3 separate regions of the Homo sapiens genome follow, and regions 2 and 3 are each linked to region 1. The links come from fine-mapping of genetic effects on gene expression. A gene starts in region 1. Each other region holds a variant in brackets. All regions are shown on one strand. Distances are between the middles of the regions. Region 1 holds the start of GALNT8 (polypeptide N-acetylgalactosaminyltransferase 8). Region 2 holds the start of KCNA6 (potassium voltage-gated channel subfamily A member 6). Region 3 overlaps GALNT8 (polypeptide N-acetylgalactosaminyltransferase 8).

Region 1 (6,493 bases):
GGAGGGCCACTGTTCCTTTACTGATATCATGTGGGGACAATGACAAAAATGCCAGCTCCCCAAGAGACCTTCACTGACACACCCTGGAGGGGAAGGTGGGGGATGCAGGGGCAAACCCTCACAGCTGGGGTGAGGTTGGAAGTCTAGGCTCCCCACGAGGCCTCTGTGGATGTGGTGGGCATGGCACTGCAAGGTTTTCAGTGGCATTTGGCTGGAGTAGGGCAGTTGTTGTCTAAACATCTTCTGTCTTGCTAGGCTTCCCATTTCCTGTTTCTTTGGTTAGAGAAAGCAGCTTTTTCTTGGGGCTTCTATTGTCTCTGCCCATTGCATTTCCAAGTTGTTGACTGCTCCAGCATCCAGCAACTTGGAATCTATTTCCTACAATAGCTAGGATATCTGGAGATCTCTAGTCAGCCTGCCCTGTTCTCTCTACCTTTCAGAGTCTTCTTAGGTTTGTTTTACATATCATGTGTACTTTTTACTTGCCTTGATGGGAAGGAATAGAGAAGATAAATGTAGGTATTTCTTCTTGTCCCAGAAGCAGAAGGGTTATGCTTTTTTGTTTGTTTGTTTTTTGTAGTTGTTGTTGTTGTTGTTTGAGATGGAGTTTTGTTCTTGTTGCCCAGGCTGGAGTGCAGTGGCGCGATCTCGACTCACTGCAACCTCCGCCTCCTGGGTTCAAGCGATTTTCCTGCCTCTGCCTCCCAAGTCGCTCGGATTACAGGTGCCTGCCACCATGCCCAGCTAATTTTGTTATTTTTAGTAGAGATGGCGTTTCACCATGTTGGCCAGGCTGGTCTTGAACTCCTGACCTCAGGTGATCCACCTGCCTCGGCCTCCCAAAGTGCTGGGATTACAGGCGTGAGCCACTGCGCCTGGCTGGATCATGCGTTTCTTATGTTTTGAGTCTAATTTGCAAGTGGGAGGCTGGGAGACATTTTCTATCCCTGCGAAACAGAAGAAGTGATTCCTTTTCATTTTGTTCATTTTCATCCTGTTTTTCCTAAAGCCACATTACTTTCCTTTAATCCACATGTCCGCCTCAGCACATGTCACCATGTGCTGTGTTTGGGACGTAGTAAATAGTCCAAAGAGCCAGGCCGGGGTGGAAGCTGTGATTTTGACGGGATTGACAGTAGACTGAGAACTTTGAACTTTTAGCCTTGGGGAACAATTTTATGTGTTTATTCTACAATGATGATCACTGGTGATTTGTCCAAAACATATTATAAGTGTGAGGTGTGGAGGCAAAGGAGTTACTGGAAGCTGGGGCAGGGCAGAAGCCCAGTGTATGAAGTTGTGCAGAGGACAAGCAAAGGACAGAGACCAGTGAATCGGAGTCATCCCCTGAGGCTCAACCCCGGGCACCGCCTCCAGCTCTTCTCCACCTGCTTCTAGGCAGTGAAGTCCTAGGAACTAGCAAGAAAGTCTGTCCTTAAGTTTGTGGGACAAGCATTTGTTGCACACCTACTATGTCCAAAACCCTGTAGAGTTAGGTAAAAAGACATCTTAGATCCCAGCTCTCCAAAAAAGCAAGGATCTAAGTGTACAGAGACTTCTTGCTTCGTGATTTCTTCTTCATCCTATTTATCCCCTTCTTATACCCACAGGACCAGACCTCACATGCCCTATCAGAGTCTCCCAGGTGGTTTTTCCAGGGAGAGAGAACATTAAACATCAAACAAACATATATAGAGAAAAGCCTCTCACCCAGGCAGCCTGAGCTAGCTGCAGGAGCAAGCATTCTTCTGACTTCTGAGACAGTACAAGGTGTGTCCAGGTGACTTACCTGTCACTGGGCAGCTGCCATGCGCACTCCTCACACCTGACGCTGCTCAGGGAGAAGCCAGGCAGCTATAATAGTGTTCTTGGCCGGAGAACATCTGGCCTAGCAGGCAGGGTGTCATCTATGAAGCTGGGTGGAGAGAAAGCTGTTGGGGAAACCAGCCCCACACCACCCAGCGGATACCCCGAGTCCGGCGGAGACAAAGGAGTTAGAAAGAGACAGAACAAGCGTTTAAAAGGCAGGTCCAGGGGACCAGAGCGTTGGAGGCTTGCTCACGGCCCAGAGCTCTGGGCTCCACCCAATTTATTGGTTTACAAGCTCTTTGTTCTTAGGGCAGATGGGAAGGGGAGGAAGGGATGAGGAAAAGGATTAATCAGTGAGTCATTCGATAAGATGTGTAACAGTGGCGGTTTCTGTGAATTTCCTTGAGCAAAGGCGTGTGTCTAAACTACTTAAGATCTTTAATGACTGAAATGGGTGGGAGTGGGTTTCAGGAGGAGCCAAGATGTTTGATTATACTCCTCTGCTTCAAGGGAGTGTTATCTCCCTGAGCAACCTGTGGAAAGCCGCTGAGCAACCTGTGGAAAGCCGCTGAGCGGTTATCCTCTCGGGGCATAAAGACAAAGAAGGCAATAAGGAGACTTTGCTCCTCAGAGGCCACCCGTGGCTTCCCATGGGTGTCTCACACAGGGGAGACCAACTCAACTGGCACCTAGAACTCTCTTTCCCACAAAAGCTAGGCTGGTTCTGATTCTTAACCTGCTCCAGCAGTGACACACTCAGTCCCACAGGGAGTGGACGACCCCCAGGAAGAAGATGATGTTTTGGAGGAAACTCCCCAAAGCCCTCTTCATTGGGCTGACTCTGGCCATTGCTGTCAATCTCCTTCTGGTATTTTCTAGCAAGGGGACTTTACAAAACCTGTTTACGGGTGGTCTCCACAGGGAGCTTCCTTTACATCTGAATAAACGCTACGGGGCAGTGATAAAGAGACTCTCCCACTTGGAGGTGGAATTGCAGGATCTGAGTAAGTTTACAATGCTAACCTGGAAGGTGTGTGTGTGGGTGTGTGTGTTTGGGGCACTTAGGAAAAAGGGATATGGAAGGAAAAATGGGTGAGAGGTCACATTTTCATCTCAGTCGCTCATTGAAGCATCTGACACTGAATTCTGTGCCTTCAAATGGGAGATGGGTATTGAGAATGAAGTGAGTAGAAGTGGAAATTAGAGCAAGCAGTATGGGGGAGGTGAGCATGTGTGTGTGTATGCGTGTGTGGGCTTGTGCACATGCATTATCATTATATCTACATATGTGCAGGCAACGAGAAGAATAAGAATCCCAAGGGCCATAGACCTGTCCTTAGGCCTATTGAAGGGGTGGGTTGCACCTCCACACCTGTGGGTGTTTCTCGTTAGGTGGAACGAGAGACTTTGGAAGAGAAAAAGACACAGAAACAAAGTATGTAGAGAGAAATAAGGGGGCCCAGGGGACCAGCGTTCAGCATACGGAGGATCCCGCCAGCCTCTGAGTTCCCTTAGTATTTATTGATCATTCTTGGGTGTTTCTCGGAGAGGGGGATGTGTCAGGGTCATAGGATAATAGTGGAGAGAAGGTCAGCAGATAAACACGTGAACAAAGGTCTCTGCATCATAGACAAGGTAAAGAATTAAGTGCTGTGCTTTAGATATGCATACACATAAACATCTCAATGCCTTAAACAGCAGTATTGCTGCCCGCATGTCCCACCTCCAGCCCTAAGGCGGTTTTCTCCTATCTCAGTAGATGGAATATACAATCGGGTTTTACACCGAGACATTCCATTGCCCAGGGACGGGCAGGAGACAGATGCCTTCCTCTTGTCTCAACTGCAGAAAGGCGTTCCTTCCTCTTTTACTAATCCTCCTCAGCACAGACCCTTTACGGGTGTCGGGCTGGGGGACAGTCAGGTCTTTCCCTTCCCACGAGGCCATATTTCAGATGGTCACATGGGGAGAAACCTTGGACAATACCTGGCTTTCCTAGGCAGAGGTCCCTGTGGCCTTCCGCAGTGTTTTGTGTCCCTGGGTACTTGAGATTAGGGAGTGGTGATGACTCTTAACGAGCATGCTGCCTTCAAGCATCTGTTTAACAAAGCACATCTTGCATAGCCCTTAATCCATTTAACCCTGAGTCGACACAGCACATGTTTCAGGGAGCACGGGGTTGGGGGTACGGTTACAGATTAACAGCATCTCAAGGCAGAAGAATTTTTCTTAGTACAGAACAAAATGGAGTCTCCTATGTCTAGTTCTTTCTACACAGACACAGTAACAATCTGATCTCTCTTTCCTTTCCCCACGCCTATGTGTGGTAGGGGCTGTTGAAGAGAGGTGGCAATCTCTGGGGCAAGGGCCTCGCTTCCATTTTGCGGTGTGCTCCTTTCATGAACTAATGAGGGCTTTGTTAGAGGACCTAAGATCGAATCCTGATGTGCCATTGTGGTTGTGTGACTTTGAGCAAGTGCTTCTCTCTCTCAGCCTCAGGTTCCTGGTCTGTAAATGGAGATGATGATAACAATAGTGATAGTTATCAACCTGACCTAATAGGGTTGTGAAGTAGATGCAGAAGGTGATCTATAAACTGCTCTGTGCCAAATTTTAACCTCCTCATTTAAACTTAAGGGTAAGATTTCAACACATTCTGGGGTTTGTTTGTGATTCCGGCTCACCATGGAAGTCTAATGCCTCTGAATTTTATGTGCCTGTGCATCCAACTTCAGCAAGGGAAGCAGCAATTTCCCCCTGCTCCCAGGTAACAGGGATCAAATGCTGGAACCCCATAGGGAGGTGTTTTATGTGTGGGCAGGGATGTGACTGCCCAGGTGTGTGCACATGGGGCTGGAGTTGGGGAAAGTGTCTTTTAAAATGAGAACTGAGCATTGTCAGGGTTCAGGGTGAGGCTGGGAGATGGGTGGAAGGAAAGGCAGGAAGAGAAAAAGGAAGGGAGAGAAGAAATCAGGGAAAGAGCGAGGAGAGTGAGAAGGGAGATGAGAGAGGAGAAAAGAGCTGGGACAGGAAAGGAGCAGAGAAGTGAGGGAGTCCAGGGAGAGAGAGTGAAAGAGTTTGTATGGAGACAAGAAGAAAAGAAGGGAAAGTGTGATGGGAGAGAAGGAGAGAATAAAAGGAGAGAGGAGGAGTCCTAAGGCACCCATAGCACCTTCCACGTCCTCCTTCATAAGACTCATCATATTTTATTATGGTACAGTTTTATGGAAAGCAAGTTTCATAAGTGCTGTTTCCATGAACGTCTCATTCACTACTCATTTCTATTCATACATCGAAATTCCATAGATGAATAAATGAGTGGGTGTGTCTAGGAAAGAGAGAGAAAAAGACAGGCAGACAGGGATGAAGGGAAGAGTGATACGGGGCAAGAGAGTGGATGAAACAGAGGGAAGATCATCAGCTCCACAAGCCCTGGCTTACCTGGGTGGGTCGGACATTGCCCATGCAAATATGCTTGGTGCAGCTTCACCAGGAGGATGCCTGTGTACCTAGGGTGGTGACCCCAGCACCACCCTCACTATTTGGCAGAGCACCCAGACCACACCAGGACTGTCTCACCCATCCCCAAGGCTCATCACACTGGCTCAGCCTCCTCAAGCCGTAAAATGGCAGGAGTTCTACCCAAAGCCCTGCTATTCTTTCCATCAGCTAGGACACAATGTGCCATGAGGAGCCAGCCAGAGCCATCTGGTTTACTCCTCTTTCCTTTTTTGCAAAGATCTTTCTTGTTATTCTTGGTGCTCCCACATTTTATTCGCTCTGAAATGTTGTGATGTCAGAGACTCACTACCACCTGAGTTGAACCTCAAAAAGTCTTCTGGGCCCTGTTTCTAGATCACCAATGCTTTTTTTTTTTTTTTTTTTCCACAGAGCTTCCTATAACTAAAAGCCTGTTTAATTACCCTTCATCCTGTTTGCTCATTGCCTCCAGGATTCCAGGAAGATTTAAAAAAATCAGAAGTCGGCCGGGCGCGGTGGCTCACGCCTGTAATCCTAGCACTTTGGAAGGCCGAGGCGGGTGGATCACGAGGTCAGGAGATCGAGACCATCCTGGCTAACACGGTGAAACCCCGTCTCTAGAAAAATACAAAAAATTAGCTGGGCGTGGTGGCGGGCGCCTGTAGTCCCAGCTACTCGGGAAGCTGAGGCAGGAGAATGGCGTGAATCTGGGAGGTGGAGGTTGCAGTGAGCTGAGATCGTGCCACTGCACTCCAGCCCGGGTGACAGAGCGAGACTCCGTCTCAAAAAAAAAAAAAAAAAAAAAAAAAAATCAGAAGTCAATAAGGATACTTAGTTGAATCATGTAAGCTACCAAGAGCAAATGCAAACAATAATAATTATATCCCTATTGAGGGAGGGATCAATGACTCTAAGCCAGTTTTCTGGAACCTCCCTCAGGGTTCATAAAAGCCCCACTAGGGGAATGTCAATGGATGTGTCTGTTTTGGGGCTTGGAAAGTTTCAGTATAAGTTATGGGGATAACCTAGTGACACTGTATTCATACTACCGGATTGTGCATTTCCTCAAATTGACTTTAGGATGGCCAGGTCCAAACCAGCTCCCACTGATAGCCATGAGTGAAAGAGAAAATCAGATATCCCCCCAAGGAAGAACGCAGAGGAGCTCAGAGGTAGGAAGAACCCAGTACCACCCTGTGGCCCC
Region 2 (7,167 bases), 87 kb after region 1:
GGAGGGTGTTCCGTGCTTGTGCACAAGTGTTGTGTTCTCTCAGTAAGAGGTAAGGGAGCTGACGACTCGCCACCCTGTCCTCAGAGCAGGGGCCTGTGGGTGACAGGACCATGAGGAGAACCATTTTCAGAGGTTACACAGAGAAAGAGGAAAACTTCAGGGATCGTATTACCAGAATGATGACAAGTGCACACACACACACACACACACACAGCAAAATAAAAATGTAAAGAAGCCTGGAAGACAGATCATTTATGTCATTTATATACCTGGAATAGGTACATTTTAGAACCTAGGGCAGAGGTCAGAATATAAATGGTTATCACACAATGCTTCACATTATCTGTGCTCATCTTGTGGGCACATACGTCCATTCTTAGGTGGTTCTTCCCATGGATGCCCCCCACGTACTCCTGACCTGTTGCAGATCATGTGTTCCACTGGAAGGCCAGCGTGGGCCCAGGAGGATGGGGCCCCTGGGGTCTAGTCCTGGTTGTTGGTTTCCAGGAGCTCTCCATCTCTTGGCTTTCCTTTGACTTCACCTACAACCCCTCAGCCTCCTATGCTGGCTGCCCTTCCTCCTGACCTTGACCGGTAGATTGAAGACTGCTGTGAAGGACTTGGTCCTGGTCATTTCTCCTCGTTGTCCATATTCTGTTTCTGCAGAAGACCTTGGTGCCATGAATGTATATATTTCTAGATGTCTTAAATTCATAAATCGTAAGTTTCTTTTTCATATTCCAGACCTAAATAAATAACTGCCTCCTTGATGTCTTAATTTGCATGTATAATTTCCCTCTCCAATGTAAAACATCTAAAGGTGAGGTCTTGACGCATCCCAACTTGTTTAACCCCTTGTCTTCCCTTTCTCAGTAAAGGGCGACACCTACCTGCCTAGTTGCTTGAGCTTGGCATTGGCTGCTTATTTCTCATGTTTTATTGATGACTAATTCCTGCTGATTCTATCATCTAAACATACCTCCTCAGTTCTCCTCACCTCCTCTCCACTCTATCTCTACTGACTCTACCTTTCTCTGGCCCAAGTCACCATCATCTTTTCCCCAGACGACTGCAATTTCCTGGTCTTTCTATTTCTTCTTCTACCTCTTCATAATTCATTCCCCTCCCAGCCTCTAAGTAAATCACATCACGTCTCTCCTCTGCTTGAAAACCATCATTGGCTTCATACCGCCCTTAAGATAAAACCTGAACACCTCACCCTATAAGATGGTACCCTTGCTAATTCTTCAATCTTATCTTGCACCTCCCTTTCCCTTGCCCATTCTCCTCCCAGCGCACGGCCTTCTTTTTGACCTTGAACACCCATGACCTTTCTAGCTCAGGGCTTTTGCACTTGTCAGTCTGGAATGCTCTTCCCTGCATTTGGCACTGTGGCCCCATTCTCTTATCTATTTTTGAGACAGAATCTCCCTCTGTCACCCAGGCTGGAGTGCAGTGGTACAATCTCGGCTCACTGCAACCTCCACCTCCCAGGTTAAAGCGATCCTCCTGCCTCAACCTCCCAAGTAGCTGGGACTACACGTGCCCTCCACCATGCCCAGATAATTTTTGCATTTTTAGTAGAGACAGAGTTTTGCCATGTTGGTCAGACTGGTCTTGAACTCCTAACCTCAGGTGATCCACCTGCCTCAGCCTCCCAAAGTGCTGGGATTACAGGCATGAGCCACCGTGCCAGGCTCCATTCTCCTCTTTGGATTGTCAGTTGAAATACTACCTCTTCAGAGGGAACTTTTCCAGCTACCCTTGCAAAGTTGAGTCCCCAAGTTCATTTCTGACATGGCATCCCATTTATCCTCCTCAAGGCATTTACTGCAATATGGAATTATTTTCCTTATTGTCTACTGTTAAAATTTTCTGTCTATAATGTAATTTATTACATGAAAATGTATGCTTATCAAAGCAGATATTTTGTATAGATCACTGCTAAATCCTCAGCACCTGGCACCATGCTGGCACTCAGTAGCTGCTCAATATATACTTTTTAAATAAATGAATGATTGCTATGACCATGGCAAACATCTGAATCTGGATACAACAACAAAAAATAACAACAAAATCTGTGCTGGCATGAAATTGGTGCTTGGTGAATGCTGGGGAAAAATCCCCTGCCATTGGAAGCCACTTGGCAGTGTTTATGGATGGAGCTGTGTCTTCCTTCACCTGGGAACTGGCATTTCTGAAGGTGTGATTGTACTCATCCTTAACATACGCTTGGGGGGAATGATCTAGGCATAGGGTTTTTCTTAAGCTAAGAAATGAGTCTATTTCACAAAAGAACTAAAAACAGAACTCTGATTCATGAATTTGCCAATGGCTTGTCCTTCTCAGGGGAACCTCCCTGGGCACAGTGAAACCCTTCTTGGGGCACGACCTCATGCTTGATGTGAAGGTCATCACAGAACATCAGCTCTGCCTGAAGGGTGGCCGGCAGCCCAGTCAGGCTTAACCCGAGGGGTACTCAAACGGAGGTTCTTGACACCTTATCAGGGTGTGTACGCTTCTGCAGAACGAAGGTTCCTTCCCATGCTTTGCCAGGATTGGTTTTGAAGAATTACTGACCTAGTTGACAGTCTCGTGAATAAAAATGGCAATGATGAAAACAAACCTGCAAATGAATCATTCATTATGAATTTGAAAACAAAAACAAAAAGAATCAGGGGTTAGTCAATTTATGACTCAGAAAATAATGACAGATAACTGGATAAGGGTAAAGTGACAGATAACTGGATGGGGGTAAAGAGTATCTTCTATAGTGTATTTGCTGTTGGTTTCCTTTTTTTTCTTTTCTTTCAAAAAGATTTTTTAAACAGAGCAACTTTTGTGTGGAGTCTAAATGGCTTAATTACATAGTCTGTAAGTGAGAAAACTCCGCTGGATGACTCCATGTACTTGCTTTCTCTCCCTTCACGGAAACATGCAAGGTGAGAGAAAGGAGTGGAAATGAGACAGGCAAGCATGAGATGGGCAAGCTGGCTGCTTTCCTGTTGTGATGTGGTTTGGAGAAAAAAGAACAAAAGCCCTTTACTCAAGCTGTAACTCCCAGCCAGTCAGCATCAAAGGCCCAAGAAGCTATTAACCACAAATTAATTAACCCCTTGCTTTAGAGAACTAAGGACCTTTCTGAGGCCCTACGTGCCTAGCTAGGCTTAACTTTCACCTCATCATGAACTTTTCCTTATTTTAGTACTAAAAATCATGCCCACAGGTGGAGATTTAAGATGCTAATGAGACATATGTTGTATGAAGCAGCATCTTAAGCCACCGTACATGTGCCCGAAAAACCTCACCTCTACATGCCCTGACTTCCCCTTACTGCAGACCTCCACAAAGGGAACCCACACCTTGACTTTGGAGAGCAACCCACTTCCTTTCTTGGTGTTTGGTCCCTTATGTCCATAAGCTTTCATAAAATCTTTCTCTTTGCTACTGTATGCTGTGATCTCTTTTGATTTCTATCCTGGGGGATCAAAAAAGCCCACAGGGCGTTGGTGCCAGAAATCAGCTGTGCAAGCACAGAAAGGGAGCAGAGGCTGTTGCCTGGCTCAACTGGTGAGGAGCAAGACTGGAGAATGAGCATGCAGTGAGTTCTAATACTAGCACATTTCTTACCCACTCAACACCTGATCCCTTCCCGACACATCCAGGAGCCTTGGTTCTCTCCTTCCTCCAACTCTCTGAGAGTGAATGCTGCTGAGAACCACTGTGGTTTTAAAATACTCCGTGCAATACAAAGAACTCTCAGATGCATCCTGTGGTTTGAGAGCACCTTTATGTGTCATTCTCATCATTAACCTCAATGAATGCATACTAATGATCTAATATGCACCAGAAGCTACACAAAAACACTTTGTAGTTGTTAGCCAATTCATTTTGGCTACAGCCAGCCAGAAAAGAGGAAAC[T/C]GAGGCACAGAGAAGCAAATGTCAACCCTACCTGGAAGTGTCAGTCTGAAAAGATCAGTTGAGTCTTCCTCTACCAGACCCCAACTTGTCTGGTCTCGTGAAGAAAGACAGAAATGGATGGAAAACCATTCTTATCACCTTCTTGCTGGAGAGTTAGGGAAGAGTCAGCTGGTCCCTAACAACAAACTTTGCCCTACTCCAGTACTGCCAAAGGGGTCTTTGTTGTAACATGGCCTACAAGGAGAGGACATCTTTCTGGGAAAGCACCTAGAATGTGGCTGGCACATATTCAATGCCCAGTAAATGTAGCTATTATTTTTTCAATCAACACTCTTACATACCCCTTTTCCACTCACCCTCTTCTCCCTTTTTTTGGTCACCCAATAAGCAGAAATTCCAGATGCATCCTTCGGGGTGGTTGGGAGCAAAGGATCCCCAGGGTGCACTGTGCCCTGGGCTGAGGTATCTCTGAGGTGCTTCCATCTTCTGGGTCCTTCCTCACTGGGGTTGTTGCCTCAGGCTCTCAGGACTCCCCTGGAAATCTTCTGATGGGAAAGGCATTGATTGACTTGCCACCCTTTCTCTACCATCCCTTTGCAATTCTGGGAGAGTTGCAGCCCCGCCCTCCCAGGCTTGCAAAGGTAGACGGAGAATTATATTGGAATTTAAATCGGAAGCTCTCAAGGCATCTCAAAAATACTTTCTCTATTTTTTTTTTCCTGTAGATATTGGAGAGGTTGGCAAACGGGTCTTCCTGAAGACAGAAGAATGTATGATTTAATGTTTTCTTTAGATTTCTGTATGAGTGGATGCACAGTGCTCCGTATTGTGTGGTGGGGCGGGGTGTGTCTTCTTATTGATGAAATACACTGCGCAGGTCAACTCGGTAAATTGAAATGAGAAGAGCCGACTGCGGGGGTGGAGGGGGTGTGGTATTAGGGTGCCGGCGCTTGTGGAGGGGGGCGCGAATGTGAACGTGTGAAAGCGAGAGGCGTGCCAGGAGAGCGCGGGAAAGCTTACTGGTGAGGCAAGTGTGCGTCTATTTCCATGGCGCCCTGGCTCGCGGCAGCCCCTGGCTGGGCGAGGGGTGTGATGTGGGAGTGGGGTGGGAGGGGGCAGCAGGCGGGGCCTGCCACGTCACTTGGAGAGTGTGTGTTGGGAAGGAAGGGCAGAGCGGAGAGCCGAGCCGCTGCAGCTGCGGCGGCGGCAGCGAAGCCTTGAGCCGTGGGGAGGTGGGTCCCCGCGCTCGGGCGCCGGGGCAGCCCCGGGCCCTCTGCGAGGCCTGCGGCGCGGCTCCTAGGGAGGAGGTGGCGGCTGTGGCGGCCGGAACCGCGACCTTGGCCGGACCCAGCCCCGCGGTGGACGCAGGGCGGAGGCCGAGCCCCGCCAGGAGTCTTTGCCGAGCCGGAGGGAGGCGCATCTGGCGCTTCGGTACCAGCGGCAGCCGGGGGTCCGGAGCGGCTGGAGGAGCGCAGTGGGAACTGGGAAGAGCTAGCCCGGCTGGAGGGCGGACCTCTGCGTCCGGGAGCCGGGTCTCAGGCACCGCTGGGGGCGAAGCCACGCGTCTTTTCGGGCAGCCAATTTCACACGCGCCTGTGTGCGGTTCCGGGCATCCCAGTAAGCTCTAGCACCCGGGCGCGGGTAACGGGAAGCGCAGAACCAAATCCCCAGCGCCCAGGTCACCTCCCCAGACCCAGCCTTGCAGGGACCAGGGCTTTAGGGCTCACGGACCCAACGGCCAGGTCAGACCGCGAACCGGGAGGAGCGCGGGCCCCACCCTAAAGAGGGCGCAGCCGGGAGCTGGGGAGCGGGTGCCGCGCTCCAGAGATTGTGTCGTGGGCGCCGTCCTAGTGGCGGGGAGCGCACCTCCGAGGGGGCATGAGATCGGAGAAATCCCTTACGCTGGCGGCGCCGGGGGAGGTCCGTGGGCCGGAGGGAGAGCAACAGGATGCGGGAGACTTCCCGGAGGCCGGCGGGGGCGGGGGCTGCTGTAGTAGCGAGCGGCTGGTGATCAATATCTCCGGGCTGCGCTTTGAGACACAATTGCGCACCCTGTCGCTGTTTCCGGACACGCTGCTCGGAGACCCTGGCCGGCGAGTCCGCTTCTTCGACCCCCTGAGGAACGAGTACTTCTTCGACCGCAACCGGCCCAGCTTCGACGCCATCCTCTACTACTACCAGTCTGGGGGCCGCCTGCGGAGGCCGGTCAACGTGCCCCTGGACATTTTCCTGGAGGAGATCCGCTTCTACCAGCTGGGGGACGAGGCCCTGGCGGCCTTCCGGGAGGACGAGGGCTGCCTGCCCGAAGGTGGCGAGGACGAGAAGCCGCTGCCCTCCCAGCCCTTCCAGCGCCAGGTGTGGCTGCTCTTTGAGTACCCAGAGAGCTCTGGGCCGGCCAGGGGCATCGCCATCGTCTCCGTGTTGGTCATTCTCATCTCCATAGTCATCTTTTGCCTGGAGACCTTACCCCAGTTCCGTGTAGATGGTCGAGGTGGAAACAATGGTGGTGTGAGTCGAGTCTCCCCAGTTTCCAGGGGGAGTCAGGAGGAAGAGGAGGATGAAGACGATTCCTACACATTTCATCATGGCATCACCCCTGGGGAAATGGGGACCGGGGGCTCCTCCTCACTCAGTACTCTTGGGGGCTCCTTCTTTACAGACCCCTTCTTTCTGGTGGAGACGCTGTGCATTGTCTGGTTCACTTTTGAGCTCCTGGTGCGCTTCTCCGCCTGCCCTAGCAAGCCGGCCTTCTTCCGGAACATCATGAACATCATTGACTTGGTGGCTATCTTCCCCTACTTCATCACCCTGGGCACTGAGCTGGTGCAGCAGCAGGAGCAGCAACCAGCCAGTGGAGGAGGCGGCCAGAATGGGCAGCAGGCCATGTCCCTGGCCATCCTCCGAGTCATCCGCCTGGTCCGGGTGTTCCGCATCTTCAAGCTCTCCCGCCACTCCAAGGGGCTGCAGATCCTGGGCAAGACCTTGCAGGCCTCCATGAGGGAGCTGGGGCTGCTCATCTTCTTCCTCTTCATCGGGGTCATCCTCTTCTCCAGTGCCGTCTACTTCGCAGAGGCTGACGATGACGATTCGCTTTTTCCCAGCATCCCGGATGCCTTCTGGTGGGCAGTGGTTACAATGACCACGGTAGGTTACGGGGACATGTACCCCATGACTGTGGGGGGAAAGATCGTGGGCTCGCTGTGTGCCATCGCTGGGGTCCTCACCATTGCCCTGCCTGTGCCCGTC
Region 3 (7,167 bases), 22 kb after region 1:
GTAGAGACGAGATTTCACCATGTTAGCCATGATGGTCTCGATCTCCTGACCTCGTGATCCGCCCGCCTCGGCCTCTGAAAGTGCTGAGATTACAGGCGTGAGCCACTGTGCCCGGCCACCTGTGCCCCTCTTATGCACCATGAAGAAGCCTGGGGGCTGAAGCAGAGTCTAGAGAAGGACTCCAGATACCAGGAAGGGACTTAGAGTTGCTCCTTATGAGGAACAGATCACTCTCCCTGGGTCATTAAGCCTGGAGAAAAGAGAGATTTGGGTGCTGACTCTTCATAGTGGCAACAGCTCTTGCCCACAGGGTGCCCGTGCCCCGAGTCTAGCCCACCCAAGGAAGAGATGTGGAAGATAACAGACCTGAGTCCTCACTTTCTGAGTTCATAATCCCGGCTTCTCCTTTGTAAGTGTTAGGTCCTTGGGTAACTCAACGTCTTCATATTCTGATTTTCTTGTACACAAAATATGGATGTTGATAATAATAACCATTTTATGAACTATAGTGAGAATTAAATGAGATCATAATGGCAGCTAACATTGCTTGTTCTAAGCACCTTACGTGTGTTAACTTTTTTTTTTTTTTTTGAGATGGAGTTTCAGTCTTATCATCCAGGCTGGAGTGCAGTGGTGGGATCTCAGCGCACTGCAGCCTCCACCTCCCGGGTTCAAGCAATTCTTCTGCCTCAGCCTCCTGAGTACCTGGGATTATAGGAGTATGCCACCACACCCAGCTGATTTTTGTATTTTTAGTAGAGATGGGGTTTCACCATGTTGGCCAAGCTGGCCTTGAACTCCTGATCTCAGATGGTTTGCCTGCCTCGGCCTCTCAAAGTGCTGGGATTACAGGTGTGAGCCACAGTGCCCAGCCATGTTAACTATTTTAATCATTACAACAACCCTATGAGGAAGGAATCACTTTTTGACCCATTGTGTAGATGTGCAAAACTAAGGCATAGACTGATCAAGGAACTTGTTCAACATCCTACAGCTGGTAAGTGACAGAACTGAGATTTGACCATGAACTTCAGAGTCCAGAGCCCTGGTTCTAACCACTGTGTTCCCGTTATAATACATGAATTATGTAACGCATTTTGCACATGGTAGCCTCTCAGCAATTGTTGGCTCTTAGTTTTATTAATTTTGTGCAACAAATAAAAGAGAGTAGAATTAAGTTACAAAAACTTAGAGGTTTGGTCTAGCAGTAAGGAAGAATTTCTTGACTATAAGGGCTATGAAGTGGCAGCTCATTGGAGGCAGAATATGTTCCTTCTCTGAGGATCTTTAAGTACCAGATAGGTTATTGTACCTTCCTGAGAGAGCAAACAAAATGACTGCTTAAACCTTCTTTTTTAGACTTCCACACTAAAAATACTTATATTCATCCTTTGCATACCTTCCTCTTTTTTTATTTCCAATGTAACTAAACAAAAAATAAGAAGGTACAATTTTTAGAGCAAAATTCCGCTGAAAACCAAAGAAAAGAGACTAGTTTCATTCATTTCTGGGCATGGAGACTGGTACTGAATTGCACACCTGGTTTTCTGCCCCAAAAATAGGAGCATGATTAGAAAGACCTCTGCCTTGGACTTCTGAAAACACTCTGGCTCTGCTCCCTGCCTGAGACAACGTCAGGCAAGTCCCCTCACCTCTTTGGGACTCAGGGTCTTCATGAGGCAAAGACAAGAGTTGAGCTGGAATATTGTGAAAGATATCTTTTTCTGTGGAAAAAAAAAAAGTCAATACTATACTCTATGGCCTATACGCTATGTTCCATGGGGTGTAGATAAGACTTAATTCAGGATTTTTTCCTGTGGAACAATGCAATAAAAAAATACAAGATTACAAACACGGGGTAGACACATAAAGAAAAACCAAAGCTTTCTTATTGCTCTAAGCTGCACTCCATTGTAACACATTCCTCTCATTTAGGTCTGAAACCCACGTTTGTTTTTCACAGAGATGATTTGTTTGGATGGTCACAGAAAAGGGGACTGTCAGCCATTCTTTGGTGTTACAGGGACAGGAATTAGAGAGTCTCTGTCATTAACCACGAAAACACCAGCCAAATTGAGCCTACACTGAGCATAACTCAAATATCTGTTTTATGTTAAACAGGAGAATAAATGGAAGTCTCTACCATGTCTACTGAAAGAGAAACTCACTATCCATGTGAATTTGGGGGCAAGTGACTCAACCACTTCTCACCTCAGTTTCTGCATCTGTAACATCAGGGAATAATGGTGCCTACCTGATAGGACCACTTTTGGGATTAAATAATACGTGTAAAGGCCTCAGGAGAGAGCCTGTTCCCATTACATGCTAGCTAGTGTTCTGCTCCTCACCTATCTCAGTGTTATTTGTAGTACTTTTGAAATGCCACAACCTGGTGCCAGAGGTTTGCCTCCTTTCTGTCTTTCCCTAGATGTTAAGCTTTATTCACATCACTCAAATATTTTGAGCTTAAATGTTAAATGTCACTCAAATGTTATGTGAGATGTAAGCTTTTTAAAAATTATATCAAGGTAGGTGGAATGCTGTATTTTCTCCCTAATTTTAGGAAAATTTCACAATCAACAACTACATGTTGAGTTTCTACCATGTGCTAGCCACTGGGCAGGGAGGAGGATGTCAGAGAGTTCAAGTTTCCTTCTTAATTAATGAGGCAAGACACATCTGTGGAAAGATACCTTAATGTGTGAAGAATAACGTGACAAACCGAGTGAACCGTCAGTGAGCAAAAGAAAGCACGGTGTGGGGGTGTGGGGTGTGGTGATCTAAGGAGGGTTCCTGGAGGAGGCAGGCTCGGATTGGGACTTGAAGGCGTCATAGGATTTGAGACAGCAGAGAAAATGAGGGAAGACTGGGAAACTGGGTCGGGGTGGAGAGCTAGGGAGCGCCGAAGGAATGGTGTGAACAAAAGTGAGGAATCCGGAAGCGCCCTGAGCTGACCAGCCTGGGATAGCAGGCTTTGGGGAGGAGACCGGTAGGAGGGCAAAGCTGGGAAGGGAGCATAGGTTGTCTTCAGAAAACCCGTCGAGGCGTCCTTAATCTTTGTGCTATATGATAGGCATTATTTTTCAGGAGGTGACTCAGAATCTATGGCTCATAAAAATTTGGAGTTGGAAGGGTCCTGACTATTTGGTACTTTTCTTGAAATTTTTAATATTTGTTTTTCTAAAAAAGAGACAGTCTCACTCTGTTGCCGAGGCTGGCCTCAATCGCCTGGGCTTAAGCACTGATCTGCCTCAGGCTCCCAAAGTGCTGGGATTACAGGCATGAGCCACCATGCCCACTATGGTACTTTTCTCTAGGTTGAGGAATCAGACACATCCAATGGGAAGTGACACAGGATGATGTAGTGACTGAATTAGAATCTAGATATTCAGGTTCAGTGGCGCCTCCTGTGGATTACTGACTAAAAGTAGTGCCTGGGTAAGTGTACAGACTGGCAACCTTGGCTACCCCAGCTTACTCCCAGAGGAAGCAAACAGCCTTAGACGTACTGGCCCTGCTTAGCACCTTCAATAATTGAGACAATTACTCTTGAGTGCAGCAGATCTAAAATGGGGTAAATTTTACTGCCATAGTCACTTAGGTGTTGATTCCAGGTCTTGATCACTCTAGGTCTCACAAATATGCT[C/T]GTCTTTTGAGAGAGGAACTGGCAAGAATCTCGTTCCTTGGCTATGGGGAGAGAGGAGAGGGAGGGAGGACTTGGTAAACCCAACCAGGTACTCACAGAGTTCTTGAGACACGGTGTTCTGGTGGCTAAACACAGCATAGGTTCACATCCAGGGCGTGCCACTTACTAGATATGTGACTTGGAAAAGTTTTTAAAACTCTTTGTGCCTCAGTTTCTTTATCTGTAAAGTGGGGATATTGTAGTGCCTACCACATGAGATACTTTCAGAATTAACTGAATTAATTTTATCAATGAGTAACTCAGAGTCATTTGGTTAGATATTTTGCATACTGCTAAGTGATTTGCCTGCAAGTGGTTTACTTACACGTGAGGAAGTCAGTGGTAGGCTGAGCCCAAGAACAAAGCCATAGACAAGCTTTATTAAAAGAGAGGGAAGAGAGGGAAGAAAACTACCTGTAAACAATCTAGGAATAGTGAATCTTGTTTGCATAATTTTTGGGCTAAATTTACTAGCTAGAAGCTGGCAAAGAGATTAATCTGTGCATTCTGTCCCAGTTGGTCCTTAAGTAGGTCAACTGGGAATATCTAAAACAAAACAATTTTAGTCATTTATGGATTCTCCAGAGTTTTGAGAGTTTAGCTATGAAGATGTTCCAGGCCTTCCTGCAGTGTTTTCCATCAACCTGTGCACCTTAGGCTAGATCTGTCCACTCATTCTCTCAAGAACTTCTCAACGTGAAAAAGCACTTATAACAGTGCCTGACACGTAGTAAGCAGTATTATCATTTTAAGATAGTTTAACTGTCAGGGAAAGGACATTAGGAATGATCACAGTACACCTCAGGTGCAAGGGAGAAGAGAGGCAGGTGCAGGGGAAATACTACTTATTTTCTAGTTGACTCTTAGAATTGCCCATTTTATGCTGGAGGTAGTCCAGCCACTAATATATGATAGTATAAAACTTTTGTATCACGTTGATTGTTGCACTCAGAATTTCTATAGGTGTGCACTTGATTGACAGGAGAACTAAAGGTACACTTGGATGAGAAGATTAAGCTTTACAACCAGAAGTATCCAGGACTACTGAAAATAATACGGCATCCTGAAAGGAAAGGTCTTGCTCAAGCCCGCAACACTGGCTGGGAAGCTGCCACAGCAGACGTGGTCGCCATCTTGGATGCTCACATTGAAGTCAATGTTGGGTGGTAAGGCTCAAAGAGGCTAGTTCTTCTGGAAAGGGCAGAGAGGAGATATTGTGCATGTACTGAACACAAGACAGGATACTGTGGACACAGGGAAAGTCAGCACCAGGCCTTAAATAAAGGGAATCTCCAAAACAGCATGCTTTTATGCAGGGATTTTGCTTGGCTAAGAGAAGTAGCATGGTGGAGAGTATTGACAGTTGGATCATAATGCTGACTTTGCCAAATACTTTGTGAATTTGAGTAAGTCACTTCACTTAACTAGACATTGTGTCTTTAACTGTAAAGATGAGGAGATTAGCCTTTGGTTATTTTAAAGGTTTTTCCCCAGCCATGAAATTACATAATAAAATAAAGAGAACTATGTTCTTTAGAGAATGTGGAGAATCAGACAGGAAAGAAGCATCACTTTGGAAACGGAGAACCAAGAGATAACGTAAATTCAAGGAGTAATATACATACTGAGAATGCTGCTTCACAACGGCCTGGGGGTGTTACCTGGGTACTAATTTCAAACCTGTTCTCGATGCGGGTTGGCTTCTAGCAGCTTCAGCTATCCCGAAAGGTTACAGAGATTCTCTGGACTCTAGAGAGTTCTACTCACAACCCAGTACAGCCTAAATGGAGGAGGTACTCAATGTCAGGGCAAGGTGCTTGGAACAGCTTTATCTGCTCTCCCCTACTGCTTGTCCTCATATCCAAGCTGGGCTTTCTGCACACTCTTGTTCTAGGGCAGAGCCAATCTTGGCTCGGATTCAGGAGGACCGCACTGTGATTGTGTCTCCTGTGTTTGACAACATTCGTTTTGACACCTTCAAACTGGATAAGTATGAACTGGCAGTTGATGGGTTTAACTGGGAACTCTGGTGCCGCTACGATGCACTGCCACAAGCCTGGATTGATCTGCATGATGTCACTGCCCCAGTGAAGTAAGTCTGAGGAGATTCAGGGAACTTGAGTAGCATGTGGGAAGGCAGGAATGAACTGAATGGATTTTGTTTATCTTTGGTGGTAGTAATTGGGGTGACGTGGAAGGAGGGGAGGGGATGAGGTGAAGGACAAGGGATAGAGGGAAAAAACCCCAATAAGTTATCCCAGTTAAGAAATCACAGACACTTTGGGATATTTAGGGACTTTCAGACAAAAATCAAGCAAAACACTTAAAATTTTGGAAAACATTTGGGCCATTTCAAGCTTTAGCAGACTATGAAGTAAGGATACCTAGAAGAAAAAGGTGTAATTTCAATATATTTTGAGAAGGGTTATGATAACGCAGTGGGCGAGGGAAAGCTACATGCACTTAGTCTTGCCTGAGAGTTTAGGGAAGGCCTTCATGATAAGAACAGACTTAGGTAGAGTTCTGAAGCCCAAATAATCATTGAGCATCCCACCCCTCGCCTCCGCTCCTTATGGAGAGATTAGTGACTCTTGCTGTGTGCTCTGTAGGAGTCCTTCAATCATGGGCATCCTGGCTGCTAACAGGCACTTCCTGGGAGAGATCGGGTCTCTGGATGGTGGAATGCTCATCTATGGAGGAGAGAACGTGGAGCTTAGCCTGAGGGTGGGTACATTTCCCTTTTCTTTATGGGACAAAGCAGAAAGGGGAATAATAGAAAGGTAGTAGGACCCCTGGAATCCTAGAACAAGGCTGAATGTCATTGGCTCAAAGGTGGATACATTCTTATGTTTCTAGGCAACTGGGCCAAGGACGGGGGGCAATAGGACTTCTGGAGTGGACACTCCTGGTATAGCCCATATAATCTGGGAGGTGGGGTGGGAAGGGGTCAAGTTGGGATTGAATAGATAGATGTCCCTATTTCACTTGAGGACTCTGGGCATTTTTCAAGCATCTCCTGGGATAAACTTAACCTTGGAGCAGACAATTCTCTAGAAGGCCAAAGACAGCAAAAACAGGAGTGGGCAGCGTGACTAGGGAATGCAGACGTGTGGGCAGCCAGCCTGCTTCTGTACTCACAGCCAGAGCAGCTGACGTGATAGCCTGAGTTTGTGCTGAGATATAGTCTAATCTAAGACAAATAGCCAGGTTTTTATCATTATATAACTGAAATCCTCAAACCCGGCCAGTTACGGTGGCTCACACCTGTAATCCCAGCACTTTGGGAGGCTGAGGCAGGCAGATTGCTTGAGCCCAGGAGTTCAAGGCCAGCCTGGGCAACATGGTGAAACCTTGTATCTATTAAAAAAGAAAGAAAAAGAAACAATAAATCCTCAAACCAGTGCTAGTCCTGACCAACTTCTGTGTGTCTGGAAAAATACTGGCTTCACACTTAAGCAGTGATGCCTCTTGTCTGCCCCTGA

Evidence for each region. PIP is the estimated chance that this variant, and not a neighbour inherited with it, causes the effect.
Region 2: its variant is the best candidate, but not a certain one, in a credible set for the expression of GALNT8 in whole blood (INTERVAL, PIP 0.87).
Region 3: its variant is the best candidate, but not a certain one, in a credible set for the expression of GALNT8 in esophagus muscle (GTEx, PIP 0.83).

What each region holds. Positions count from the first base shown.
Region 1 is chr12:4,718,076-4,724,568 of GRCh38, forward strand. GALNT8 (polypeptide N-acetylgalactosaminyltransferase 8) reads left to right here and starts at 2,325. Exons shown (of 11, transcript NM_017417.2): 1 at 2,325-2,813. The coding sequence starts at 2,603. It overlaps GAU1 (GALNT8 antisense upstream 1), which reads right to left and starts at 2,027. Exons shown (of 4, transcript NR_110112.1): 1 at 1,790-2,027. RefSeq lists enhancers at 1,446-2,441, 2,442-3,437, 3,438-4,433.
Region 2 is chr12:4,804,243-4,811,409 of GRCh38, forward strand. It overlaps KCNA6 (potassium voltage-gated channel subfamily A member 6), which reads left to right and starts at 5,092. Exons shown (of 1, transcript NM_002235.5): 1 at 5,092-7,167. The coding sequence starts at 5,800. KCNA6-AS1 (KCNA6 antisense RNA 1) reads right to left here. Exons shown (of 3, transcript NR_199077.1): 3 at 243-2,626. The variant T/C (reference allele first, on the strand shown) is at 3,922.
Region 3 is chr12:4,739,850-4,747,016 of GRCh38, forward strand. GALNT8 (polypeptide N-acetylgalactosaminyltransferase 8) reads left to right here. Exons shown (of 11, transcript NM_017417.2): 4 at 4,668-4,851; 5 at 5,580-5,777; 6 at 6,295-6,409. Among named protein-coding and RNA genes, the nearest start is that of GALNT8, 23 kb to the left of the region's middle. The variant C/T (reference allele first, on the strand shown) is at 3,647.